Linked DNA regions of Homo sapiens. The protein of the gene in region 3 interacts with the protein of the main gene of each other region in a pairwise test. Each region holds a gene or a part of one and is shown on either strand. Other genes may lie near its edges. The genes, in order: MSX2, OIP5, YTHDF1 and KRTAP8-1.

Region 1 (7,626 bases), on a different chromosome or scaffold from region 3:
CAGAGACTCTCAAGAGACCTGCAAAATTCTCGCCCTTTCTAAACTAGGCCGGGCCCTCAGGAGGACTCAGGTGTCTCAGCTCAGATACCAAGTTCCTAGCGTGTATATACTCTTGCTCCTGGCTCTACGTGGGGTTTTGAAGCACTGTGCGCCTGGGCAGGGTAATTCCAGCTGGTCCTTCGGGTTACATTTGAATTATGAAATCCAGGTGACCGGGATCGCACATGTGTATCAAAACCATGAAGCTATGAGGCTTCCTCCCAATGCAACACTCCCCATCCCTCCACCCCCACCTAATTTTAAACCAGCCAGAGGAAGGATGCGATTATATAAGGCAAAACAGCGTTTATCCTACTTCCTCCAAATAACAAAATCAGGCCCGGGCGGGTAGCTCCCTCTCGCCCCAGGCTCCGTCGCCTGGCATTCTCAGGACCCACTACTCTGACCACAGGGTTCCCGCTGCCACCTCCAGGCCCAAAGCACCAACAATTCTTCATGGTGTTTTTTTTTTGTTTTTTTGTTTTTTTTTACTTTAAGTTCCGGGATACATGTGCAGAATGTGCAGGTTATAAACTCGGTTCTCAGAATTTCTGGTTCTTTTCATGGGAAGGTCACAGCCTGGGCCCGAGGTTGCCTTACCCAGAGCAGGGAAGCTTGAGCACAGGGCAGAGATGTTTAGAGGGGTAGTAGTCATTGCCTTTCCAGACCCACAGGCCTAAAGGATGGCAGGATTCCTAACCTCTGGACACTACTCCATTTAAGGCCTGTATCATTGGCTGGGCATAGGCGTAGGCTATGTACTCAATATTTGTTAAACAAATTAAGTCTTTTAATTTTCTGAGCCTCTACCTCACTGTCGATAAAGTGGGTAAGTAACACTAATCCCTCAATGTGGTCCACAGTACTAAAATTTTAAGAGTACCCAGAGCCCTGTCTGTCTGCCACCTGGTAGGTGATCATTAAATGGTCCCCAGCTTTTTTTTTTTTTTTTTTTTGGTCAGGCCCAAACTGCCGATTCCTCTCTGAACTTTGCTGAAATGTCCTCATCTGTTAAGAGGCCGGCTGCTGCCCTACAGAGGAGATAAGATAATACGGTGAAAAGTGCTATAAAGCACTATCCAAACTTGAGTTTAAATTCTTTGAGTCCCTTAATCTCCTCGCCCTTTGAATCTTTCAGAGTTTCTAACAGGGTGGAGAGAGACTGCCAGAGGGGACAGCCACTGACGCCTGGGTATATGGCCTTGTTTTGTTAACAAAATACAGTGCGTCTAGTCTTGAGGGCTGAATGATGTAAATAGTGAAAGGATCTCTCTCAGCTTTGGAGAAAGTCCCTCCACAGCCCCCACCCTCACCTTTCCTACAGGTAGGGGATGGCGTGGTGGGAAATTAGGGGGTAGAGAAACCATAAAAGCCAAGAGATAAAAGTAAAAGAGGCTGTAAAGGATGACGTCTCCAAATTGTAAAAGGACTCAGGGACCAAAAATGGATGCTGAAGCGGAGAATTCTCTGCAGCCTCAATTCTCAAGTGGGGTGCAGGTGCGGATCTCTACCTAGTCTCTCTGGGGAGAGGACGCAAAAGTGGTCAGGGCATATCAAACAGAGGAGCAGGGCGTGGGCAACAGGTGCCCCTGGCCAATCAGTGGTTGTTGGTAACCTGGGACAAGCAAAGGCCGTCTTCTTTAAAAGCCTCAGCGTCCACGTCTGAAAAATAGGGTAGTCACAAGTCCAGTGTCTACACTTGGGGGTTCTAGTGAGGATCTCGATCTGGTGAGCTAGTGAACATCACTCTGCAAACTCTCAAGCCCTGCTGGAATGCGGTTAATTATTACTGTGAGCCAAGAAGAGCCCGTGCGCTTCTGGCCCCAGCCCGCTCCCGGCGAAGCTCAGAACCTTGCCGGGGAGGTGCTGGCTGCGGAGACCACAGAGAGACATTTCCTCCCCGCACCAGACTCTGATGCCACCATCCCTGGTGCCACCATCCCTTCGTGGGATCCGGCTTCGACACCCGCGGGACTCACGAAAGAAAATGGTTTCTCCTCAATGTCTGGCTAAGCCCAGTTAGCTCATCTTTAAAATGGGGGCACAACTCTCAGGGTTGAGTTTTGAACCTGTCTCGTTCCTGGTACATCCAAGTGCTCACTGAACATGGATCCAACTCCTTCACTCCCCAGGCAGAGACTCCGGGGAACAGTGAAACAAAAACAAGCCAAGTGGCCAGAGCGCAGGGCCGAGGGCTGTAGAAACGGACCACCGAGCGACCCCGTAAACCCAGCTGGGGTTCGCTCTTGAAAAAACAATCTGTATGTCGAGGGAGTCTCAGACACACACAGCGCGGTTATTACCCAGAGGGTGTCTTGGATGCGGACGGCGCACTGGGCGCGCCGAACGCCCCGGGCACCCAGGAGTCCAGAGGCCCTGGGCTTGCTTTCCCGGGAGTGTAGCGCACGCAGAAGGGTCTCGGTACCCTCAGCCCTGGAACACCCGCCCCCCGCTCCCTCCAGTACCCCGCGCTACCTCCTACTCCTGCCCCGGCGCGCACTCACTTGGCGGCGGCGAATATCGGCCGGGTTCCTGCATCCACGCCGCTCCATCTTCTGAATTTTCCGACTTGACCGAGGCGGTCTCGAAGGGCTTCACCAGCGGCCCGGGGCTGTGCGCTTCCCGAGCGCCGTGCCCCGACAGCAGCAGTGGCCGCAGGGTGGCCCCGGCCGAGGCGCTTTCGGCCGGCAGCGGGGACGCCTCCTTGGGCGGCTTCTTGTCGGACATGAGCGCCTCCACGCTGAAGGGCAGGCTGGAGACCTTGACGCGGCGCTCCTCCGCGGCCCCCTCGGCGCCCCCAGGCCCCGGGCCTGGTCCGGCCACCACTGCTGGGCCCTCCTCGTCGGGCGAAAACAAGTCATTGCCTTTGGACGGAGAAGCCATGACTTCTCTGCCCTACGTAGCTCCCGACGCGCGACTCCGCTGGCAACCCGGCAGCGGCGACTCAAACTTTTTTGCTGCGGAGACGGGAGGGGCGCGCTGGGAGCTGAGCCTTTCCTCCGAGGGGAAGTGGGAGACGCGCGCCGCCAATCCGCGCCGGGCCTGGCGCTGACGCCAGAGACGCTCGCCCCTGATTGGCTCTTCCCGAAGGGGCTGCCCCCCCTCCTTTTTTTTTTTTTTTTTTTTTTTCCTGTTTGAAATAAATTAGGAGTTAATTACAGGAGCAGTCAGCAGAGTTGTTATTAGGCGATCCCTGAAGGGTTATAATCACGCCGAAACTGAAAAGCCCGAGACCTAATTAAGAGCGATTATTTAAAGCGGAAGTTCGCCGAGTCCCATTTCTTCTCTCTTTTGACCCTTCTTTAAAAGGGACCCTGCGCCCATCCCACTCTCCCTCTACCGCCAGAATAAGTTCAAGATTCGCAAACAGCATTGCAGAAACATTTACGAAGCCCCTACTATGCGTCAAAATTGGCTTACTTTACAGTTCCAGAAAGTCGGTGCTGAAACTCACAGGCCAGTATCCCTGTGAAAGAAATGTATGCACTTAGAAGAGTAACTCGCCACTAGCCAGCGCTCAAAAGCGCCCACTGTTATTATTACAACTCTTTCCCCTGGAAAAGAGGGGCCGGAAGGAGCCCGAGAAGTGGTCAGGAGTGCCTCTCTCCCAAATGGTTCGGAGTGAAGAATTTAAATCAGTTGTCCCCATCTCTCTCACTAGAAAGCAAATCCAGCGCACTTTTAGAAAGTTGAAATCTCTGTACTTGTCTCCTGAACCTCCTTTCTGAGCGCGATCCGGATCCGACCTTTTTCTCAAGACAGTGCAAGTGTGCATTCATGAGTTTGTTTGAGCCTGTGTTTGTCGTGCGTGTTTGAATGCCAGTGTTTGCCTCGGAGGGTAATGGGGGTGGGGGGGAGGAGGAAAAGTCGCCAATATCTAGTGCCTCCCTCTCGTTTGCAAGTCTCAGAAATACCGGCTTCCAAGTTTGCACACCCCAGGCCTACATATCATTTTGGGAAGCACATTTTTATTCATGGCACCTGGTTTTTTATAAAAACATAGATGTCTCCACCCCACCCCAAATTATACCCTCGGTAATTCCTTTCCAAAGCCTCAGTGATGACTGTCTCAGCCTGGGGAAGGGGAGAGCGAGCTTCGAGGATTAGAGGCCTCGGATCTCTCCGCTGGTCCTCAAAATGCCTGACCTAGAAGGTTAGCTTCAAAAGACTTTTTTCAGGCTGCGGCTGTCTTTTCCTATATCTGAACGATTATCCTGCGACTGACGAGGTAAATAGGAAGTCACCCAGTTCAGGACCTCGCCTACAGCAGATGCTTGCTAAACATTCCCTAGAGCATTGGAAGGGAGAGACATTGTTTTTAATTATTTAAATGACCAAGGCTTGGAGGCTACCTCCCAGTTCAGGAGTATTAGAAACTTGACCCCTAGACCTACAGACCCTTATGTACCCTTCCCAATGTACCTCTCTGAGGCACTGTTTGCTTCACCCCAAACCTTTCCCTGAAGTGAAACTGTGCTGGCCGGAGAGAACTGGAAAAAAGTATTACCTGAATCTTAGAGGATAAAGACAGTCTGCACAGGCCAGTTAATTCAGTTTGATTAAAGATGGTCCTGAAAAAGTAAAAGAGTAAGTAAGTCCTAAACACAGTCTTCTAAAACTTCTGAGTTTCTCTCTCACTATAAAGAATATGCACATTTCTTCTTAACCAACTGGAGGCTCAAAAAAGTTAAAAAAAAAAAAACTATGAAAACTACCTGGAGATGTATGCGTTTTCCCCTTGAGTCATACCTGGTGATAGTTGATTTGATATGCATCTCAAATACAGTACAGGTAAATCCAGATTAACTTCTGTACCTTCTAGATGTACAAGGCAAGGTGCAGGCTATATATTTTGGAAGCAAATCTGAAATTCGTTTAGCCCTCAGCTGCCAAAGTGTACAAAAGGGTTCAACTTTCAGTTAGGCTAAACGCAGCCAATGTTTTATAATTATTCCTGAAAACTCCTTGTTAATATCTGTCAGCTATAAGGCACACAGGCTCATTCCTGAGAAATTCGAAACAAAAATCAATACCACTGGAACTCCTTTATTTTAATGAACTTCTCTGGGAAAGGAAAAGCCAGGTCCCCTTTACTACTCTGGAATACTGAAGTCCAGGCAGAGACAAATAAATTACAAAGCCAGGAATAGGAAAACAGAGATAAAAAAATTACCGGTGTTCAAAATCAGAGTGCCAAGCTCTGACCATGAATAGGAAAGATGCTGAGAGAGGAACCAGCCTGCTCCTGGGGTCTTTGCCAGTTCCCTCCCCAGCTCTCTGCTGAGGTGGAGACAAATCGGGAAAGGGGCTCACTTCTGCTGGGAAAGGGCTGGAACCGCAACACAACGCTAGCCCTTTATGGAAAGCCCCAAGTCTGCATTTTATCCAACTTTGGCTGCGTTTTCAGAACGTTTTATTCACCTTTTCCTGGCGGAGTGACCTTGGGCACTCTAAATTGCTTCCTCCAGCCAGCGTTTTTTTTTTTATCTCCAAAATGAGAGATAATAATCCTTACCTGAGATGACTCTGGTGGTGATTAAATTCAATAGGCTACCTAAAGTAACTAGAAGGCATAGGAGGTCCAGGTTAAAACATTATTGTATATCAAAAGCAATCACAATGTATCGAATGCTTTCTCCCTGCCAAGGATCGAAAGATAAGGTGCATCCCAGAGCTTACGGTAGGTTCTTTGTAAAATTTCCGGGGCTGAGAATTTGGCTCGGTCTGAGAAGTGTCCAGGTTTGGGGACAGTGATCTAGCGGAGAACTGGCTTTGTCACGTAGAAGGCACTCAGTAAATGTTAGTTCCCAGGGATGTATGCGTAGCTGCAATATTTGCTAGCAAAAAAGCGGGGTTCCAATAGGAACTCAGCCACCAGGAAGCATCAACTCTGAAGGATGCTTTAGTGCCTGGACCTATCCAGGATCTTATTGGTTTCTTCCAACACACCGCTGCTAGCAGATTATTTTTCCCATTTCACAGATGAATGCCTAAGGCTGGGAAGCGCTAATACTCTGCCCAAGGTCGCGCAGGTAGAAGTGGGAGACACAGGAATCCCTCCCGCGCGGCTGAGGCCTCTGAGCGTAGATCCTCAACCCTGCACCTTCCCGCGCTCCCCGGGGCGCGTTACACCCGCCAGGCCCCTTCTTGAAGCAACCGCGTACGCGCGCTGCGAGTCCCAAGGAGAAAACACTCCTTGCAAACTGTGGAGCACTGCGCGCAGAACGCAGCGTTTGTAACCCCGAGGGCCGAAGGCTAGTTTGTAACCCCAGCGGCTAGAAGGGGGCGGGGGAGGGGCAGCGAAGGGGGCTGTAGACGGGCCTGGGCTTCGGGCAGGCGCCAGGCGCGGGGAGATGAAAGGCGGGCTCCGGGGGAAGGGGCTGCGCCGGGTGACCGGCTCCAGCCGCGCCGGGCGCCCCGCCCCCGCCCTGCCCCGCCCCCGCTGCCCGGGGCAGAGGCGGCTGCCCGCGCCGGAGCCGCGTTAATTGCTCTCGGCCCCAGCACTCAGCCTGCGCGGAGCCGGGACAACCTCGCTCCAGGAGGAATGACAATTCGCCCTAATGGGACAAGCTCGCTCCCAGAGGAGTGACAATTCCTCCTAATGGGAGCTCGTTAGCGGCCTATTCTACCGAGCCCGGGTATCAGAAGCAGGCAGACCCGCGGGCGCCAACATCCGCCAGGAATTCCACAACACCGCTCACCCACCCCCCAAAACATTGGCTGTGTGACTTCGGGCAAAAGGCTACTCGTCTCTGAGCTCATTTTTCTTACTGGCTTGTTGCAGAGTGAGAATGGGGAAGGTTCGGTCCTCTGGTGTCTAGAGAGATCACTTTCCGAGTTACACAGCCCAGGAAGTCGGGTAGATAGATATTCAGGGTCACAGCTGGAGGTTTTGGGGGTACAAACGTCTTGCTTGCGAAGCTCTGCAAGCCCAAGCTTGTTCTTTCCTGTTCTCCTGTTCCCGCCCCCTAAGGTCCGGAGTCAGGACCGAGCCCGGGTTTGAGCCGGGGCTGGAGAGAAGGAGCTTTTGCCAAAAGCACGATGCAGATTACTGAAGGCCCCCTAAAGCCTGAGCTTTCTCCCCATTCCACAGATGAAGTCGTCCAGGCGCAGAGAGGGGAGAGGTTGGCCTGACTTCAGCTGTGGTAAAACCTAATTCAACACGGTGTCCCTGGAAGAAGACCATCACAAGGATGGGGGCGGGGGAGGTAGAGGTAAAAGAAGCTGCATCTCCTTGCAGGTCCCACAGCCTGGAGAGGGGATGGCGAGTTCATGGGGACATCTAGTTCTGGAGGCAGCAGGTGTGAGGGGAGGAGCTGTGGGTCGGCCTTCTGTAGTTCTATATTCAAATCCAGGCCCTACTTCTCACCGTTTTCCGCCGTCACCTTGCTGGGTCTTGGTTTCCCCTTTCAGAAAATAGGCATGCTAATGCCCATCCACAGGGTTGCTGGTGAGAACTAGGTGACAAGCCTTACAAAATACCGAGTAGCGCTGAGTGTGCTGGAAGCAGGCACTGACCCAGGAGACAGCTCTGCTTCGGATCTCCTAGAGCTAAACTGGCTTCAAGATCTAGAGCTGAACTGGCTT
Region 2 (6,852 bases), on a different chromosome or scaffold from region 3:
AGTGGCACGATCTCGGCTGACTGCAGCCTCTACCTGCTGGGTTCAAGCAATTCTTCTGCCTCAGGTTCCTGAGTAGCTGGGATTACAGGTGCGCACCACCATGCCTGGCTAATTTTTGTATTTTTAGTAGAGACGAGGTTTCACCACGTTGGCGAGGCTGGTCTTGAACTCCTGACCTCAAGTGATCCACTGCCTCGGCCTCCGAAAATCTGGAATTATAGATGTGAGCCACTGCGCCAGGCCTGTAATTTTATGTATCTTTATGTGATTATTTGAATGTCCCTCTCTGACTAGATTATAAATTCTAAGGATAGTGTGTCTATTTTTGCTTACCTTTTATCCCCAGCACCTAGTCTAACACTTTACAAATATATATTAAATTAATATTTTGATAAGTTACTCAAAGTGCTACATAAAACAAAATTATAGAAAATAGTACTTTGGTAACTGTTTCGTTTTATCATTGCTTTCATTATTTCTCTGTTAACCTCAGTTTACAACTGAAAAAGACAAATTGTATATTATTCAGGCAATTTATTAAACATTACCTATAGAATATTATGATCTGTATTTTACAGAAGTTAAAAAGTGATGTATTAGTATTCATAACAACTGCTCCATGCAGGAGTAATAGAAGTCAACATTAAGCCCAACTCTATTTTCAGACCAACCATGCAACTTTAGATCAGAGGACACATGGGACTCTGCATCTTAATTCCTAAATTTACAGTCAAAGACATTTTCAGAGATAAGTATTATGAATTCAATAAGAATCTAAAGTAAGTTCTTAAGGCAAATAGCTATAAAAGAGAAGAATCCTTAGTCTCTCATCTTCTAAAAACAGCTTCACAAATAATTTGGAAAATCAGCCTAAAGGTAAATAGAAACTGCATTTCCCCTCCATTCTTGAAGCCAATCTTTTTCAAGAAATGACTAAGCAGCACCTGTTGTTGAAGACAGCAATAAAGCCTGAACCTGACACTCAAGCTTTGGTACAGGATCAGTTTTCTGGCTTGGACTGGTCAGGAGTCACTTCACTCAGAATCTTCATTAGTGATTTTAAGCGATTGTGCGTTAGCACTATCTTCTCTTTCAGCTAGGAAGAGAAATATATAGATATCAGGGCATCTTTTTTTATTTTTACTTATTTTAAGAGACAGGGTCTCACTCTGTTGCCTGAGCTGGAGTACAGTGGCACATTCATAGTTCACTGCAGCCTCAAGCTCCTGCTCTCAAGTGATCCTCCCACTTCAGCCTCCTGATTAGCTAGGACTACAGTCATGTGTTTTAAATTTTCTTTGTAGAGATGGGGGTCTTGCTTTGTTGCCCAGGCTGGTGTTGAACTCCTGGCAGTCAGTGATCCTCCCAAAGTGCTGGAATTACAGACATGAGCCACCACACCAAGATGGATATCTGGGCATTTTAAGCTTAACTGTCAATTTGCTGGTCACAAACACCATTTCAAATTTAAGCTAGTTTATATCTAGTAATTGGGAGCTGGCAATGTCTAAATGCATTTGAGGAATAAATTTCTTCTAATTCTGGAAGAACTTTATACAACAACGTAGCGCACAGTAAGATCTTCAGATGTGGCCAGGCGCAGTGGCTCACGCCTCTAACCCCAGCACTTTGGGAGGCTAAGTTGGGCAGATCACGAGGTCAGGAGATCAAGACCATCCTGGCTAACACGGTGAAACCCCATCTCTACTAAAAATACAAAAACAAAATTAGCTGGGCACGGTGGCGGGCGCCTGTAGTCCCAGCTACTCAGGAGGCTGAGGCAAGAGAATGAGTGAACCCAGGAGGCAGAGCTTGCAGTGAGCCAAGATCGTGCCACTGCATTCCAGCCTGGGTGACAGAGCGAGACTCCGTCTCAAAAAAAAAAAAAAAAAAGATCCTCAGATGTAAAGTTTCGTGTGAAAAAAGACAAAACATTGCTGAGCAGCACTGCTACTGTGAAGATGAATAAAGTCTGGTCACAGTGCTTTGTGGAGACAGGCTTCTCCTCCTTTTCCAGTGGCAAGAATTTAGCTTTTCTTTTAACACTTTGTTAACAGTAACAAATGCCTCTCTGACTTTAACATTCTACTAATGGTCTGCAAAGTTAACTCTGGTTATTAGGTTTAGAACAGATAACTGTTGCAATTAGGTAATTTTTAAGAGTTCTTACAGCTATATTTAGCATGAAATTTAGTGTTGTTACTCAGCAGGGCAAGAGCAGTGGCTTCTGATAATCTCCATTCGCCCCTCCCAGCATAGGATTTCCACCCTACAAGCAAGCTGGGGGCAAGGGCAACTGGGTTCCCAGCTACTGGGGAGGCTGAAGCAGAAGCACTTGAACCTGGCACTCACACCTGTAATCCCAGCAGTTTGGTAGGCCGAGGCGGGTGGGTCACCTGAGCTCGGAAGTTCGAGAACAGCCTGGCCATCATTTTTAGCAGAGATGGTAAAACCCCGTCTCTACTAAAAATACAAAAATTATCTGGGCACGGTAGTGCGCGCCTGTAGTCCCAGGTACTCAGGAGGCTTTTTAGTATTTTTAGTAGAGACAAGGATTCTCCATGTGGGAGAATCGCTTGAACCCGGGAGGAGGGGGTTGCAGTGACCCAAGACTGTGCCACTGCATTCCAGCCTGGGAGGCAGAGTGAGACTTTGTCTCAAAAATAAATAAACAAATAAATGTTTCTGTATTTGCCATATACCTTGAAGAAAATTTCCACAGACTTAAGATGGTTGTTTCCTTTATAATATTCTTCCTGGATCCTATCCATGGAACTCCTCATACTGCCATTCCAAAGTCATTTCCCATACCAATTATTATTATTATTATTTTTGAAATAGATTCTCACTGTCACCCAGGCTAGAATGCAATGGCGTGATCTTGGCTCACTGCAACCTCTGCCATCCAGGTCCAAGCGATTCTCCTGCTTCAGCCTCCTGAGTAGCTGGGGCTGGGATTATAGGCGCCTGCCACTGCGCCTGGCTAATTTTTCTAGTTTTAGTAGAGACGGGGTTTCACCATCTTGGCCAGGCTGAACTCCTGACCTCATGATCCACCCACCTCGGCTTCTCAAAGTGCTGGGATTACAGGTGTGAGCCACCGCACCCAGCCAATAAGAATTCTTTTTTTTTTTTTCCACACAGAGTTTCGCTCTCAATGGCAAGCTCTCGGCTCACTGCAACCTCTGCCTCCCAGGTTCAAGCGATTCTCCTGCCTCAGCCTCCCGAAAAGCTGGGATTATAGGCATGCGCCAACACGCCCGGCTAATTTTGTATTTTTAGTAGAGATGGGATTTCTCCATGTTGGTCAGGCTGGTCTCAAACTCCCGACCTGAGGTGATCTGCCTGCCTCAGCCTCCCAAAGTGCTGGGATTACAGGCATAAGCCACCATGCCCAGCCTTCTTTTTTTCTTTTTTTTTTTTTTGAGACAGATTTTCACTCTTGTTGCTCAGGCTAGAGTGCAATGGCATGATCTTGCCTCACAACAACCTCTATCTCGCAGGTTCAAGTGCTTCTCCTGTCTCAACCTCCCAAGTAGCTGGGATTACAGGCATGTGCCACCACGCCCGGCTAATTTTGTATTTTTAGTAGAGACAGGGTTTCTCCATGTTGGTCAGGCTGGTCTCGAACTACTGATCTCGGGTTATCCATCCGCCTCAGCCTCCCAAAGTGCTGGGATTACAGGCGTGAGCCACCACGCCCAGGCAAGAATTATTTTTTTTTGAGACGCAGTCTCGCTCTGTTGCCCAGGCTGGAGTGCAGTGGCGCAGTCTCGGCTCACTGCAACCTCCACCACCTGGGTTCAAGCGATTCTCCTGCCTCAGTCTCCTAAGTAGCTGGGATTACAGGCGCCCACCACCATGACCGGCTAAATTTTTTTTTTTTTTTTTTTTGAGACAGAGTCTTGCTCTGTTGCCCAGGCTGGAATGCAGTGGCGCAATCTCAGCTCACTGCAACCTCCACCTCCCAGTTCAAGCAATTCTCCTGCCTCTGCCTCCCGAGTAGCTGGGACTACAGGCACGTGCCACCACGCCCGGCTAATTTTTTGTATTTGTAATAGAGATGGGGTTTCACTGTGTTAGCCAGGATGGTCTCCATCTCCTGACCTCATGTTCTGCTCGCCTTGGCCTACCAAAGTGCTGGGATTACAGGCGTGAGCCACCACGCCCGGCCAGGAATTCTTAATAACTGTTTCATCACTCTTATGTCTGAGACAGTTGAGCAATTACAAGGTATTTGCAAAGAAGACACCTCTATGGCAAGATGATGATATCCATTCCCAGCACAAAGGAGAATGCAGGAGTGCAGCAGTTGAGCAGCTTTTCCTTTCTTCCTGAACTATACCTTACAGTGTGGTTTTAGTATTTTGTTTTTCATTACAAATTCAATAGGGAAGGTCAAATCAAGTAAAAAGGATTATTGAGCATCATGCCATTTCATCATCCCCAAGTTCATTGGTAGAAGTTATCAAGAGTTGTCTGTATTTTAAAAAAGCATACAACCATCATGAAATTTTACCTCTGCAATCTTTTCTGATAGAGGAACATTTTGAATATCCATCTCTGATGCATTTACTATGGCTTTTGTTTTTAAGAGATAGCTAGATAGGAAAAAAGAAAAATATTAGTGTCATACCATGGTTAAGATTATAAAAGAACCAAACTTACCTTCTAAAGAAAGTATGTGTCAAAAAAAGCCTGGCTTCTTAATGATTTTCATTTCAAGACTCATGATGTTACAGTTGGCCCACCATATCCATGGGTATAGCATCCATGGATTCAAACAACCACAGACTAAAAATATTCAGGAAAAAAAAACTGGATTGTGTCTGTACTGAACAGGTACACTCTTTTTCTTGTCATCATTCCCTTAACATTACAACAACTTTGTAAATTTCCTATGTAAATTTGTAATGTACATAGCATTTACATTACGTTAGCTGTCATAAGTAATCTGGAGATTATTTTAAAGTATAAAATATATACTTTTATACTTTAAAAAGGAGGATATCCAAAAGTAATATGCAAATATTACACCACTTAATATCAGAAACTTGAGTGTCCATGGATTTTGGTATCTGGTGAGGTCCTGGAACCACAGATACTGAAGGATGACTGCATTTTCTTGGAAAAACAAATTCAAAAATAAACAAATTGGAGAGGATCTCTGCCGCATCCCACCAGAGACAAAATTATCTCAGGGTAAATTAAAGACAAAAACCAGGCTCATATGAATAATTACGATGATTATAAGCTTTACACTTCATCAGTAGGATCCTGTAGCACAGTTTGAAAGAAAGTAATCCCAGTATGAGACATAGTGTTGGTCACCTATTCCCAGTAGCTGTTCCTCACTTTTTTTTTTTGAGATGGAGTCTCGCTCTGTTGCCCAGACTAGAGTGCAGTGGTACAATCTCAGCTCACTGCAACCTCTGCCTCCTGGGTTCAAGCGATTCTCCTGCCGCAGCCTCCCGAGTAGCTGGGATTACAGGCTTGCGCCACCACGCCCAGCTAATTTTTGTATTTTTAGTAGAGATGGGGTTTCACCATGTTGGCGAGGCTGGTCTCGAACTCCTGACCTCAGGTGATCCCCCTGCCTGGGCCTCCCAAAGTGCTGGGATTATAGGCGTGAGCCGAGCCCAGCCTTCCTCACTTCTTTATTGCCAACAGAATCCAGATTTTTGCCATGAGCCTACTGTTACATATTTGCTTTCTCAGATGAGGTGATCATGTGACATAGTTCTGGCCAACAAGGGTAAGAAAATGGGATGGGTGTGCTGGCTCACACCTATAATCCCAGCACTTTGGGAGGCTGAGGCAGGCAGATGGCTTGACATCAGAAATTTGAGACCAGCCTGGGCAACATAGCGAAACTCCATCTCTTTTTTTTTTTTTTGAGACAGAGTCTTACTCTGTCACCCAGGCTGAAGTGCAATGGCGAGATCTCGGCTCACTGCAACCTCCGCCTTCCAGGTTCAAGCAATTCTTCTGCCTCAGCCTCCCAAGCAGTTGGGATTACAGGTGCCCACCATCATGCCCAGCTAATTTTTGTATTTTTAGCAGAGACAGGGTTTCACCATATTGGACAGGCTGGTCTTGAATTCCTGACCTCAAGTGATCCGCCTGCCTCAGCCTCCCAAAGTGCTGGGATTACAGCTGTGAGCCAACATGCCTGGCCAGCGAAACCCCATCTCTACAAAAAATACAAAAATTAGCCAGATGTGGTGGCATGCCTGTAGTCCCAGCTACTTGGGAGGCTGAGTTGGGAGGATCACCTGAACCCAAAAGGTTGAGGCTGCAGTGAACCATGATCGCTCCAGCCTGTGTGACAGTGAGACCCTGTCTCAAAAAAAAAAAAAAAAAGAATAAAAAAAAGATTAAGAAAATTTATGCTGGCGGGGCGCAGTGGCTTATGCGTGTAATCCCAGCACTTTGGGAGGCCGAGGCGGGGGGATCACCTGAGGTCAGGAGTTTGAGACCAGCCTGGCAAACATGGTAAAACCCCATTTCTAATAAAAATACAAAAATTAGCAGGCTGTGGTGGAGCGCACCTGTGGTCCCATCTGCTTGGGAGGCAAGGCAGGAGAATCACTTGAACCTGGGAGGCGGAGGTTGCAATGAGCTGAGATCACACCACTGTGTTCCAACTTGGGTGACAGAGCAAGACTCTGTCTCAAAAAAAAAAAAAAAATTTATGCTGATGAAAAGGGGGAATTTTCTTGTGTTCCCATACTCTCCATATCCTTTTCCTTCATGTTTAGGATGCTATCATCAATAGATGTAATGACTGTAATTGCAGCAGCCATCCCGAATCCAAGAGGAAAAGGCCAAAGTTTCTACTTAATCAAAAAG
Region 3 (7,762 bases):
GAGTTAAAATTGAAACCAGGCTGGGCGCGGTGCCTCACGCCTATAATCCCAGCACTCTGGGAGGCCGAGGCGGGTGGATCACCTGAGGTCAGGAGTTTGAGACCAGCCTGGCCAACATGGTGAAACCCCGTCTCTACTAAAAATACAAAAATTAGCTAGACGTGGTAGTGGGTGCCTGCAATTCCAGCTACTCCCGAGGCTGAGGCAGGAGGAATGCTTGAACCCGGGAGGCAGAGGCTGCAGCAGGCTGAGATCACGCCATTGCGCTCCAGCCTGGGTGGCAAGAGTGAGACGCTGTCTCAAAAAAAGGACTGAAACCCAGGCGGCCTCTGGCTCCACAGTCGCTCCACAGCCCAGCTCTTAGCTGCCTCCCCAGACCACAATTCCAATCATCCAGAGCTAAGAATAACCAGGAAGCTTCAGAAACACACACACACCTCCACTGCGTCAAAGGCAAGACACACCACTGACCCACAAACACTAGAGCCAACTAGACCTGTTTGCATCCCAGCCCCAGTGGGATGCCGCCTCCTCCACAGGGAAAATCATTTTCACCCCACTGATGCCCAAGGTTAACAGGAGTCACATCTTCATGAGCAGTCTATCATTCCTAATACTTTATAGTCTGCTGCTTTGTTGTTTAGGATAATTTAAAAATCAGAAATGACAGTAAAGGTACAAAACAATTAAAACCAACTTAAAAACAAATATATGCTAACAAAATAAACTCACCTGATTTGACTGTCCAGTAAGGTAGGGCTCAAAGTCATTGTCATGAACTGTATCCTTCTGATGTAACGAACCATTTTGTACTAGAACAAAAAGTTGCAAAATATTACCCTCAAATTTTAAAAGATTACTTTTAAGCTTGGAAGGCAAAGTTAGCAAAGTCTATTTCCATCTATTTCTAGCAGAAATTATGCTTTAATTTTAAAAGGAGTACAACCAGTATAGAACTGATGTTTATACAACTAATTAGAAGGGGGACGGGAAACTTTCAATAATTTAGGATAAATTTTAAATAAAGGCTTAATCGTAATTTGGTGAGATTAACCAAATCAAGTGTTAACACATAATGCAAGGAACACATAACCAGGGTGAAAACTGACATGGTCTAAGAAGACTTATGTGTGGCAAAAAGAAGTGGAGCCTCCAAAAGCCCAAATGCAGAATGTATGCCCAAACGTATGGAGAACGGAGGGAAGAAAACTTAGGAGGGAAGGGGCTGCAACTGAAGGACTGTTGGGAGCTATTATCTGACTCTCCACAGTGAACCCCAAATATCTGAGACAGGTCTCAGTTAATTTAGAAAATTTATTTTGCCAAGGTTAAGGACACACCCATGATACAACCTCAGGAGGTCTTGACAACATGTGCCCAAGGTAGTCGGGGGACAGCTTAGTTTTATACATTTTAGGGAGACATGAGAACCATCAATGTAAGATGTACATTGGTTTGGTCCGGAGAGGCGGGACAACTTGAAGCAGGGAGGGGGCTTCCAGGTCATAGGTAGATAAGAGACAAACGGCTGCATTCTTTCGAGTTTCTGATTAGCCTTTCCAAAGGAAGCAATCAGATAAGCATTTATCTCAGTGAGCAGGAATGACTCTGAGTTCTGTCCTTTGTCCACCAGGAATTTCCTTGTGGGCAAACTGTGGGGGAAGTATGTAACTTTTTTTGTCTTAGAAGCTATCTTTTTCAGGAATAGAATGGGAGGCAGGTTTGCCCTCAGCAGTTCTCAGCGTAGCTTTCTCCCTTTGGCTCAGTGATTTGGGTGCCCCAAGACTGGTTTTCCTTTTACACCACTTACCTTCCCACTGTTATTATGCTCAGCCAGAAAAAGCAAGCAAAGGTAAATAAAGTGCTGGGCCTTTTCCAATCTTAAAACACGATGAACCGTATTTGGTTACACCTGAGCTGACACACAAACTGGCTAAAAAAGTGTTCCAAGTAAACGTGAAGTGTCACTTAACAGTTTTCACATGAGTGCGCTCTGAGGGTTTATCCCAAGCCATAATGTCACAGGAGATGCTAACAGACTTGGAAAACGGGCTGCAACTACCGGGGATGTGGAGCTTAGCCTGCAGAACCTTGGACTGCCCCTCTCCTAGAGCAGCCCCTGCTGGGCGGAAAAAGGCAAGTCGCTCAACCCCTGCGGCCATGTCCACCCGGCTCTCCTACCTCCCCTTCCCCAAAGCAAATCCATGATCATGCGGTGGGGAGAGACGGGCCCAAACTACTCTGAGCAATCATTTATTCACTTCTTGAGAAGCCCCTGTCTTCGACCTGTCAAATCTCCCAGAATCGTCGCACAACCTCAAGTTTTATCTCCCTGAAGCTGGCGGAAGAGAGAAAGTTTCCGGTTCCAGACGCAGCTTCCTGGACCGTTCCTTCCCCGTCCTCCTCCACTCCAGCCCGCGCCGGCCGTCCCGGGACTCCGCTCACCTTTATTATCTTGTCCTTTTGTTCTCTGCACCGCCGCAGGCCGGGACGTGGGGTACACACAACCCGGGGGAAGAGGGAAACACAAAGTTATTCACCAGAGAACTGGTCTCCAACGGGCCGCGAGCTCCGCCGGCCCCGACGCGCGGTCACGTGCGACCCCGGCCCCGAGACCCCGGTCCCGCCTGGGCCCGGCCTCCGCGACCCCGGGCTCTGCGTTCCAGCCCCAGGACCTCAACCCAGACCCCGCGCCTCGGCCCCGGCCGCGGCCCCTGTAACCCGGCCCCGCTACCTGGGTGTCCACGCTGGTGGCCGACATGCTTCATGAACAACTAGACGCGGGGCCGGGGCGCCCGCCGGCTCGGGCCTCCCCTAGAGGCCGGGCCTGTCACCCTAGCTCGCGCGGCCCCGGGCCCCGCCGCCAATTCCCCGGGCGCCGGCCGGGCGGCGGCGGCGGCTGCTGGGCGCGCGGGCCCCTGGCGAGGCGGCAGCGGCGGTGAGCCCGGGACGCGGACGCACTGAGGAGGCGTCGACTCCAATGGCGGCGGCGGCGGCGACAGCAGCGGCGACGGCGGCGGCAGGGGACGAGACTGCGCGGCGTCAGCGTGCACGCGGGGCAGGCCGGGAGCGCCGCGCCGGGCCGCCACACTTCGCGCCTGCGCGCTCCCGTCTTACGGGATGGATTTCGCTCTCAGGTCCCAGTCTCGTGCGGCGGGGCGGGGACCGCAGCCGGCTGGGCGGGGAAGCCCTGAGCCGGGGAAGTCACGTGGGGCGTGTCCGGAGGCGCCGCGGGGCCTGGCGGGAAGGGGCTGGCGGGCTGCTGCCAGGTGTACAGCCGCCCACACACACCCCGGCCACAGCCGCACCCCCGACGCGCTACCGGCACTGAGGCCTCTGTAGTTTTCCCCAAGGTCCGAAGACTAAACGCTGTTCTGGTCCGACAGCTGGGCTACGGGTCTGTCCGGGGTCGGTCTGCCCTTCCCCCGCGCGCAAACACCTGCCCGCCCAGAGCTCCGAGCCCCCGCGTGTTCCAGGTCGCGCGCCTCGGCCCTTGCCGCGGGACCTGCGGGCTTTGTTCGCTTTGCGGCCCTGGCCTTCAGCCGCAGCGGAGCCCTGGGCCCGGTCCCGGAGGTCAGCTGTTGTGTGGATGCACCCCTGGACCTGCGAGAGGCTCGCCGGCTTATAACCAAGTTCTCATGTTAGATTCTTGACCCCGATTTCATCACCAGGAGGAAAAGCAGTGCTCTGTGCCCCAGCCTAGGCCGGGCCAGGGGACTTGTCATCTTTGTTCGAGGATGGACAGCCCCTTCTTAGCAGCAACTGTGCAAAGAGAGCCCAGTTCTCAGTTCCTAACCCCTCAGCATCCCCAACCTGGACGCCCTTCTGGTCAAGGTGTTGAATTTCGCTCCCTGCAGCCAGTATCCAATCCTGCCACCCTTGTGGCTAACTCCCTACAGAGGCTTCCAGGTTGATATTTTTCTTTCCAGCTCTGGCAGCTGTAACATCTTCACGTGGCCTGGATCTGGGTCCTGCTAAAGGAGAAAGACCTGGAATGGGGTGTCAGGCAGGTTGACGTCAAATGAGTGTTTTCCACAAAGTGGGCCCGGGCAGATGCGCTAAGCAGGGTGAACAGTGACAGCAGGGACGGCAATGGAGTCCCAAGACGGCTCCAAGCCTGGACATCCGCATCAGTGGGGTAGCAGACAGCCTCTCACACTGCTGCAGGAGGAGGTGGAAACTGCCCCCAGCAGGCCGGTCAGCCACAGAGAGGACTGCTGCTCCAAGTTGCTCCAGGTCTCCCTGGAGCCCTGCCTCGCCTAAAGCTGGGGAAAGCGGGCTGGGCTTGTTTCCCTGGAACAGAGCTGGGGGATGTCTGGTGCCCTGAGGATGAATCTGGATCCCCTGGGACTTTGATGTGTTTGGGCCATGGGCAGACATCTCAGGCCAGGATGAAATCTGTGCATTTGGGGTACATCCGAAAATGAACAGCACGTTTCCAGGATGGTGGCCCACATGGAGAAGATGTGTGGGGATTGTAGGGACAGTGGGGTCCCTGGGGGCACCCTGCCACCTGCTTCTGTGTGATAAGGCCTGCGCATCCTGGGCAGGCCCTGAGTGCCTGCTTCCCAGGACACTGAACTGTTTGGCGGCCAAGACTGCAGCAAGGGGGTGTCTGGGTGGTCAGAGTAGACACTCGGACTCTTGGAGCCCCTGTCTGTCTTCTCACCCAGCTCCCATCCCTGGGCCAGGACGGTGCAGTGGTCACCACTGGAGTTCAGAGCCTCACAGCCAGTTACAGGGCCTTCAGCCTCAGGCCTACTTTCCTCCTCCGTGGTGGGTTAATTACTCCCCTTTCACAGGATGAGTGTGTGGAAGAAACTGGGTATGCAGCCCTTGGCGTCAGGCCAGGGCTCTGTCAACACTGGCTGTTACCTGCTGCCTTCACCCACAAATGCCCAGCCAGTCACAGGAGGCAGCACTGGCCCTGCGGGAAGTGGCCACTCCGAGCTTAGGGGCCTTCTTAGATGGCTGAGTGCCGGCAATGCAGGACCCTGGAGGTGTTTCAGTTTCCTGGAGCTATCTCAACAAAGTACCCGGAACTGGGGGGCTTAAAATAACGGCAATTTATTCTCTCCCAGTTCTGGAGGCCAGAAGTCTCAGATCAGTATTGCTGGGCTGAAGTGGAGACAGAAGCTCCTTCCAGGGCCCTCGGGGAGGATCCTAGCCTCCTCCAGCCTCCGGTGGAGGCCGCAGCCCTTCCTGGTCTTTCCTCCTCGCCTCCGTCACCTCATGGCCTTTTCCTCTGTGCCTGTGTCTCTTCTTATAAGGACACTCATCTGGATTTAGAGCCCACCCTAATCCAGGATAACCTCATCGTCTTGTGATTATATCTGCAAAGAACCTATTTCTAAATAAAGTCACGCAGGTACCAGGTGGACATGAGTTTTGGGGGTACACTCTTCAGCTCACTACAGAGATCACTGGGGAGGCCTCACAGTGATGCCTATGGAGAGATTTTGGAGGGTGACTCCTGGGGCTGAGTAGGTTCTACTCACAAATGTAGATGGAAGGAGAGGCCCCCACAGTGAGGCCTGAGGAGGCACCACCATGCCAGCCTAGCCCCACTGGCCAGGGAAGAGGCTGGCAGGATCCCACAGCCACTGCCCGGACCCACCCAGGCTTTTGCTGTGAACTCCAGAAGGCTCCATGCTGACCCTGACATGGAAGGAGACTGGGGGCTGCCCAGGGGCAGGACAGGTCTGGTTGGCGGGAACAGGGGGCCCTAAAGTGAATTGAATGCAGGGGGTGTGGCACCAGCAGGGGGTGCTGAGGTCCCCAGGCCAGCTCTGGGGGGAAAGCCTTTATCTTGGCCAGGCCTGAGGACCTGGGAGGGTGTCACAGAAAACCAGGAGTTGAGCTGCCTGTAACCTTGGAGGGCCACGTCCACTGCCCAGCCTGCCCAGGTTCACACCCCAGCCCAGCTCTCGGCCAGGAAAAGGGAGGTCACCCAGCACCGAATGTCAGGGGACAACTGTCTCTCCCTCACAGGGAGCAGGCAGCTCCTCATGTCATGGATGGAAACGGATCAGAGGGCTTTGGCCACTCCTCTGGGTGGCCCAGCGGTCTTGAGACAAAGCCTGCCATTTCTAAGCCTGTGCCGTCAATGACAGACAAGAGCCCATCCCCTGTGGGCCGTCTGCCTTCAGACGGGAACCTTCTTGCTCGGGGAACCTGTTGCTCATCCAAGAGCCCTTCCTAGCAGTACCCGCTCCTGGCAGCACCCTCAAGTGGTATGGGATTGTCTAAACATGACTAGCATTAGGAAGGTTTGGGTTTTTATTTATTTGAAAGTCACACAGGCGCATGGTTAAAAAGCTATCTTTGCACTCAAAGGATATAAGGTGGGAAGCAAAAACCACCACCCCCAAACCCCTCAGAGAGGGAGCCCTCCAGATGCCTGCCTGTGCATGCAAGCATGAGTCTCTGTCTCCACTATCTGCCCTTGCATCTCACGTGTTGGGAAACCGCACTTTGGGGATCCACAGTGCTGCTGAGTATCAACACCCGCCGTCCACCCACCTCGTCCCTCTCCAGGGAGGGCATGGGCTCCAGCCTCATCCAGTGAGTGTCCTGGCCCCAACACACATGCACACGTGTGCGAAGACACCTGGCAGGAGGCTCCTGCCCATGGAATCACTGGGCCAAAGGCGCTTACACTGGCCATTGTGCTGATGTTGCCAGATGGCCCCCAAGGAGGCTGTACCAAAACCCCCAGCCAAGAGGAGGTTTCTGAGCTGGGTGCAGGGTCCAAACGCTGTGGGCCCTGAATTCAGATGATCCCTGGCTGAACCAAACCCCTCCTGAGTGCTGGACACAGCTCACCCTGCAGCTGGCCTCTGGGGGCTCTCAGTGAAGATACCCATCTGTCTCGATGGACACCAGCCACTCACGCAGCTGCCCTCTCCACGAATGCTGTCTCAGGTCCTCATCTCCTCCCTCACCTCAACCCCGGGCTCATCCCCAGTCGGCAGGCCTCCTTCCAAAACCGCTCCCCACCGTACTCCCTGGCGGGGCTGCTTTGTCCTTGATGAAACTGGCTCCTGCTCTCTTGGTTCCTCCTGCCTCCCTGTGCCTTGGGAGTGCACTGACATGGAGTGTGCTGACGTGGAGTGTGTGGAGTGCGCTGACGTGGAGTGCGCTGATGAGTGTGTGGAGTGGGCTGACATGGAGTGGGCTGGCATGGAGTGTGTGGAGTGGGCTGACGTGGAGTGCGCTGACGAGTGTGTGGAGTGCGCTGACGTGGAGTGGGCTGGCGTGGAGTGTGTGGAGTGGGCTGGCGTGGAGTGTGTGGAGTGGGCTGACATGGAGGAGTGTGTGGAGTGCGCTGATGTGGAGTGTGGGGAGTGGGCTGACGTGGAGTGTGTGGAGTGCGCTGACGTGGAGTGCGCTGACGTGCCTCCCATGATGCACGGCACTTTACAGTTTTCAAACCTTCTCTCTCTAAGCTTCTCATTGGACCATTCACCCCACAAGTGTGAACTGAGCACATACTTATTATGTGTATGGGGCGTGGGGGCACGAGGTGGCCCCTGCCCAGCAGAGCTCCTGGTGCTGGGACCTTCCATAGCCCTACAAAGGTTCATCTAGCTTCACTGAGCACCTGCTGTTCTCCACACACGGGGACAGAACAGGCCAGGTGCTGCTCCTGCAACCCAGATGGGAGGCAGAGGTAGATGGGTCACTGTAGATCTGAGCTGTGATGGAGGCAGGACAGAGAGGAGCCCAGAGACTCAGGATAGGCAGGCACTCACCAAATGAG
Region 4 (5,989 bases), on a different chromosome or scaffold from region 3:
TATAGGGGATTTATCCCTTCACCTTAAAAACTCTCAGATTTCCAAAGGATGTCTGTGGCTTCTCTATTACTCAATGCTCCAGCATCCTTCATTAGGGGGCATGGCACTTTAGTCTATAATCCTTAGTCCCTGGGAAAGGGAACACAGTGGATTTCATTTGGACTAACATGGAAGTGACTGAAAAAGTTCCTCCTGTGTTGGGTTTTCTTGCGGAGGAGCAGAAGTAGTGAGATGAGAAGGGGACCCCGAGCAATAAATGGTGCTCCATTGGGTTGGAGGTGGGCATCATAAAATTTAAAGAAGGTTCAAACAGGCAACCTTTTAAGTCATTACCTGCAACCCACCCTCTTACCTGCTTATCACACAGGATCAGTAATTCTTTGCTTTCTGGCTGTTCCTAATGCCCACATGAGAAAAATAAATTCACTTCCCCCCCACCACCCATGTAACAGAAAATATGCACACACCAAGAAAGGAAACTTCGCTCTAGCATGAGAATATTATACCAGCTGAGACAAATTTATTGAGATTTTGATAGACATATCCATGACTTCATCACAAGTCATGAGTGTCATGGAAAATTCAAAAGTAGCTCATGACAAGTGGGAGGTCAAATTTCCGAAAATGTCCCAGAGAACATCAGCCAGGGGAGGCAGCTTGAGGAAGCGTCTGCTTTTTCATTTTCCTCCCCTGGGACTCGAGGTAAGTTGGAAAGCAGTGTCTCTGAGGTTGATGAGCAAATGAGGACTGAAGGAGTGGATACGGGGGGAACCTGGAGATGTGGGGCTCAGCCTTCAAGGGAGAGAAGATGCTACACCTCGGGGATTTCAGCCAATCAGTAGAGAGCAAATGGCGAGTATCTCCTGTAGCCGAAAGCCCCACAGCCGTTGTAGCCATAGCCGAAGCCATAGCCCACTGGAGAGTAGGTGCTGCCATAGCCACAGCCAACGCTATATCCCAGCGGGTAGCCATAGCTGCCCCAGTAGCATCCTGGGAAGACAGCCCCGGGGAAGTTGTCGCAGAGCATGGTGTCGGGAGTGGAGGGCTTAGGTAGCAACAGAGTGCGTTTCCTCAGTGGGATGGATTCCTAGTCTCAGAACCTTCTTTATATATCCCAGCTCTGGTGGGTGGTGAAAAACACAAAGCCCTCATTTTCATTCTTGACACCAATTTACATTCTAAAAAGCTCATTAACTTGTTTTGCTCTTGCTTATGATGTCTTTACAGTGGCTTAAGAAAGCTCTCGTGTGATGCAATACAGGGAGAAGATGCCTTTAAACAAATTATTTCCCTTCCTAAAAAAAAAAAAATTATTGCCAGGACTTCAAAGCACTCTGTCTTATAGACCCCATATAACTCTGTAAGCAGGTATATAATATCAAGAAATATTCTGAGGTTGTTAGCTGTTATGCAGTCCTCTTGCTCTCTGAATTTCCACAACACACAGTTGAAATTCAATAAATATGTGTTAAATACATTAATATATAAAATAACAAATGGATAGTGAGTCTATCTCAAAATTCTCAAAATTAAAGTATGTCTTAGTATTCACCTGCTTCAAGGATTCTCTTTTTTGGAATATGAAAGACAAGTGCAATGGAACTCATGAGAAAGAGTCTTTTTTTTTTCCTCTACTACAGCTACCGTGTTTGGGAAACTGGTTAAAAGTGTAATCTTAATCATAGTCCCCTCCTAAACTATACCTAACATCACATTTCTAGAAGACTACTTGAATTAATAGTATTGAGATTTTAAAACGGAGTATTTGGATTAATCCTTGTACTGAATTGTCAAACAAATTTAATTTTTTGGCCTGAAACATATTTCAAACTAAACATTGAAACTAATAAGGTAAACACAGAAAAATGAATTAAAAAATTTATTGTAAGATTTAAAATTTTTTTTCTCTTAGATCTAATGAAACTAGATTGTCTGACAAATGTGATGATATTATAAAGGGCCAGATGACAACATGAAATCAGTTATTTCACTTTTACAATGATCATGCACCCCAGGATAAAGAAGGAATGTTATTCCTTTCTAAACAGAGAGTCAGTTCTCAAGCATGAGTTAAAGGAGGGATAAGGCTGATCAAAACTATCTTGGATCATGTAAGACCTGATATATTATTCTCAGACACCTGCATTAAGATTTCTTACAGTGGCACTTAGTAGAGAACTTACAGAACAAATACCAAAGAGGGCATATGGAACAGAAATAGGCACAGAGATAATAGGAATCATTCTAGAAGGCCACAAAACAGATATGTATTACACATGAGCTCTCCCAGATTTTACTTCATAACCCAGAGGTAACTTTGCTCCCTGCTATCAGCAGCTAGGAATCAAAGGCTGAATCCAAGAACAAGATGAGACACTTGGAAAATTCAAAACCATGCCAGTGTTCTAGCCAGCAGTAGACTAATTACAGCAGAGGCATTTTTTTTAAATATAGATATATATATAATTTTTTTTTGAGGCAGAGTCTTGCTTTATTGCCCAGGCTGGAGTGCAGTGGTGCAATCTGGACTCACTGCAACCTCCACCTCCTTGGTTCAAGCGAGTCTCCTGCCTCAGCCTCCCGAGTAGCTGGGATTACAGGTGCATGCCACTGCGCCAGGCTAATTTTTGTATTTTTAGTAGAGACAGGGTTTCAGCATGTTGGCCAGGCTGGTCTCGAACTCCTGACCTCAAGTGATCTGCACATCTCGGCCTCCCAAAGAGCTGGGATTACAGGCGTGGGCCACCGCGCCTGGCCTAAATTTTTTTATTTTTAGTTTTTGTGAGTGCATGGTAGGTTTATATATTTATAGAGTACATAAGATGTTTTGATACAGATATGCAATGCGTAATAATCACATTCTGGAGAATGAAAACACCTACAGTACCCTGCTTCGTGAGCAAACCTGGATGGCTGCCTATGGGGATTCAGTAATTAAAATTCAAACACGATATGTGGCTTATAGCTAAACAAGTTCAGGGAATTGAAATTAGATTTATTCCCAAAACATAAAGGTATTCAACCACAGATCATTCCCTAAAAATCATAGAATGATTTACATACTATTTCTACTGGCATCACATTGCTGTGTTTCATGATAGAAAAGCTGGTAATGTTAGGGAAAAAAGAAAAATTAGACAAAAAATAGCATTGTATAATGGATAATTTAAAATTTTTGAATTAATATTGCCAAAGGTCAATTATGTTGCTCTATTTAAAAGAATTCTCCCATTCGCCTACCCAATCTGACAAGATGCTAGCTTTGCCTTCTGCAGCACAAAACCTAGCTCTGAACATGAATAGTAATTAAAATATGTTGTCTTTTTTAAAACTTAAGCCCTATTTACAGAGAATGGCTTGGATTTTCTCTAGAAAGTCTACAGAAAATTCTAACAGAAGAAAATTTTAGGGAAACATATCATTTATCAACAAGTCATTTAAAAATTAATAGCGAAGTTAATCCTATATTGAGCCTATGAAAGCTTTATTCTGATAATAGGCTTATCAAAGAAAGAGCAAGGTTTTCATAAAGCCTGAAAGTATACAATGCTGAAAGCCCTTTTTCTTAAAAAGTATACAATGTAATAAATATAAAATTAAGTACAAAAGTATTTGTTGAGATGCTCAAAAAATCACAAAAAAATTAAACTCCTAAATATATAAAGCAAATATTAATAGACCTGAAAAAAGAAATAGATAGAAATATAATTATAGTACAGAGCTTCAATACCCCATTTTCAACAATGAATGGGTAATCCAAAAAGAAAACCAATAATGACACATTGTACTTGAACTTAGACCAAATGGACCTAACAGACGTGTACAGATAGTCCATCCAACAGCAACAGAATACACATTCTTCTCAAGCACACACAGAACATTCTCCAGTGTATATCACACGTTAGGCCACAAAATAAGTCTTAACAAATGTAAGAAGAATGAAATCATATCAAGCATCTTTTTCAACTATAATTGTATGAAACTAGAAATCAATAACAGGAGGAAAACTGGAAAATTCACAAATATGAGGAACTTAAACATTTCCTGAACAGCCAGTGGGTCAAATGAGGAATGAAAAATATCTCCACACACACACACACACACACACACACACACACACACACACACACACAAAACAGAAAAAAAAAACCAAAATTTTGGAATGCAGCAAAAATTCTAAGACAGAAGTTTATAGCAATAAACTCTACATTAAGAAAAATTAGAATTTCAACTAAACAACATAATTTTATATTTGAAGGAACTAGAAGAAAAAGAACAAACTAAGTCCAAAGTTACCAAGAAAAAAGGAATAAAGATCAAAGCAGAAATAACTGAAATATAATCTGAAAAACAGAAAAGAGCAACAAAACTAAGAGTTGGTTTTTTAAAAGATAAACAAAATTGACAAACCTTTAGCTAGACTAATAAAACAAGGGAAAAGACAAATAAAATCAGAAATAAAAGAAGAGATATTATAACATACTCCAAAAATATAAAAGATCATAAGAGACTACTGTGAACAATTATATGCCAAAATAATTCAATAACCTCCAATAAATGGACAAATTCCTAGAAACGTGCCACCTACCAAGAATACATCATGAATAGGAAATCTTAACAGACCAATAACAAATAATGAGATTGAATCAGTAATAAAATATCTTCCAACAAAGAAAAATCCAGAGCCAGATTGCTTCACCATTGAATTCTATAAAACATTTAAGAAGAGCTAATACTAATCTTTCTCAAAGTCCTTCAAGCAATTAAAGAGGAAGAAACACTTTCAAACTCATTTTATGAGGCCAGCATTACTCTAATACCAGTCAGACAAGGACACTATGAGAAAATAAAATGATAGGACAATATCCCTAATGACCATAGATGCAAAAATACTAGCAAACCAAATTTAAAAGCACATTAAAAAGATCATACACATGATCAAGTAGATTTACCTCTGATAAGCAAGAGTGGTTCAGCATACAAAAATTAATCAGTGTAATATACTTTACACATGAATAGGATGAAGGATAAAAATTATTTGTTCATCTCAATCGATGCAGAGAAAGAATTTGACAAAATTCAACAATCCTTCATGATAAAAATTCTCAACAAATTAGGTATAGAAGGCATGTACCTCAACATAACAAATGAATAAATCAGTAACAGTCTTAGAAATAAAACAAGAAAAAAAAGTGTTTCAATTGCTCCTATTGTTTTTAGGATAATATTTTTTAATCTTTAAACTGACCTAAAAGTTCTCAACTCTCTCTTCGTTAAGTTTTGCTGTCTTTTAGTTCTTCAAACTTCGCATGCTCCTCTCACTCTTAAGCTTTGACACATGCCGTTTGTTCTGTGAGGAATTCTCTTCCTTCCTCTCCTTCTGATCAACTCCCATGCAACCTTCACATGCCAGCTCAATCACTTCCTTTGGGAGGCCTTTCTGCCATTCCTGATTAGCTGGAGCCCATCTGTAGCATAACAGTAGGCCAACCTCTTCCTCGTATCTGTAGGACTTAATCGTAGTTCCTATATAACCTTCACTTGTGTGATGGGTATCTGTCTGCCTCATTAACATGCTTATTTCCAGGAGAGCAAGATAGTATTTTTAATCAGCCTTGATTCCTCACTGCCTCACTCACTACTGGGCGTAATATAGGTTTTCCATAAGTTTCAGTTGAATGAATTAATGAAAGAATATTCTAAACCTAACTTGGCTACTCACTTGCTGTGAGGATTGAGGCAAATCATTTTTCCGGGCCTCGCGTGACCCGACTGAAAAATGGGACAAGTTGACTTCCTGGGACTTGCCACCCTAAACATTGTATGATTCTCCCATCAAAAATCACTGATGAGTCAATATGACAATTCAACACTCTCTCATTGGAATTTGGTCAATTAGGCATGCGACTATGGAGAGTGCTTTTTCTCATCTTATTACACATTCCTACTAAGACAAACTAATGAGCTTCCAGCTGCCATCACTTTGAAA

The links.
Region 1: the proteins of YTHDF1 (region 3) and MSX2 interact in binary tests that used the Homo sapiens proteins (3 or more experiments, as listed by UniProt).
Region 2: the proteins of YTHDF1 (region 3) and OIP5 interact in binary tests that used the Homo sapiens proteins (3 or more experiments, as listed by UniProt).
Region 4: the proteins of YTHDF1 (region 3) and KRTAP8-1 interact in binary tests that used the Homo sapiens proteins (3 or more experiments, as listed by UniProt).

Annotation. Positions count from the first base shown.
Region 1 is NC_000005.10:174,719,956-174,727,581, reverse strand, and holds the start of MSX2 (homeobox protein MSX-2), read right to left. Parts: upstream 3,001-7,626; 5' UTR 2,923-3,000; coding exon 2,544-2,922; coding exon of another isoform or gene 2,518-2,543; exon of another isoform or gene 2,515-2,517; intron 1-2,514. UniProt on the Homo sapiens protein: Acts as a transcriptional regulator in bone development. Represses the ALPL promoter activity and antagonizes the stimulatory effect of DLX5 on ALPL expression during osteoblast differentiation. Probable morphogenetic role.
Region 2 is NC_000015.10:41,308,754-41,315,605, forward strand, and holds the end of OIP5 (protein Mis18-beta), read right to left. Parts: intron 4,602-6,852; coding exon 4,520-4,601; exon of another isoform or gene 3,145-4,519; intron 1,097-3,144; coding exon 1,001-1,096; 3' UTR 520-1,000; downstream 1-519. UniProt on the Homo sapiens protein: Required for recruitment of CENPA to centromeres and normal chromosome segregation during mitosis.
Region 3 is NC_000020.11:63,213,132-63,220,893, forward strand, and holds the start of YTHDF1 (YTH domain-containing family protein 1), read right to left. Parts: upstream 3,001-7,762; 5' UTR 2,762-3,000; coding exon 2,735-2,761; intron 2,471-2,734; coding exon 2,446-2,470; intron 2,429-2,445; exon of another isoform or gene 2,317-2,428; intron 813-2,316; coding exon 733-812; intron 1-732.
Region 4 is NC_000021.9:30,812,194-30,818,182, forward strand, and holds KRTAP8-1 (keratin-associated protein 8-1), read right to left. Parts: upstream 1,082-5,989; 5' UTR 1,028-1,081; coding exon 836-1,027; 3' UTR 504-835; downstream 1-503. UniProt on the Homo sapiens protein: In the hair cortex, hair keratin intermediate filaments are embedded in an interfilamentous matrix, consisting of hair keratin-associated proteins (KRTAP), which are essential for the formation of a rigid and resistant hair shaft through their extensive disulfide bond cross-linking with abundant cysteine residues of hair keratins.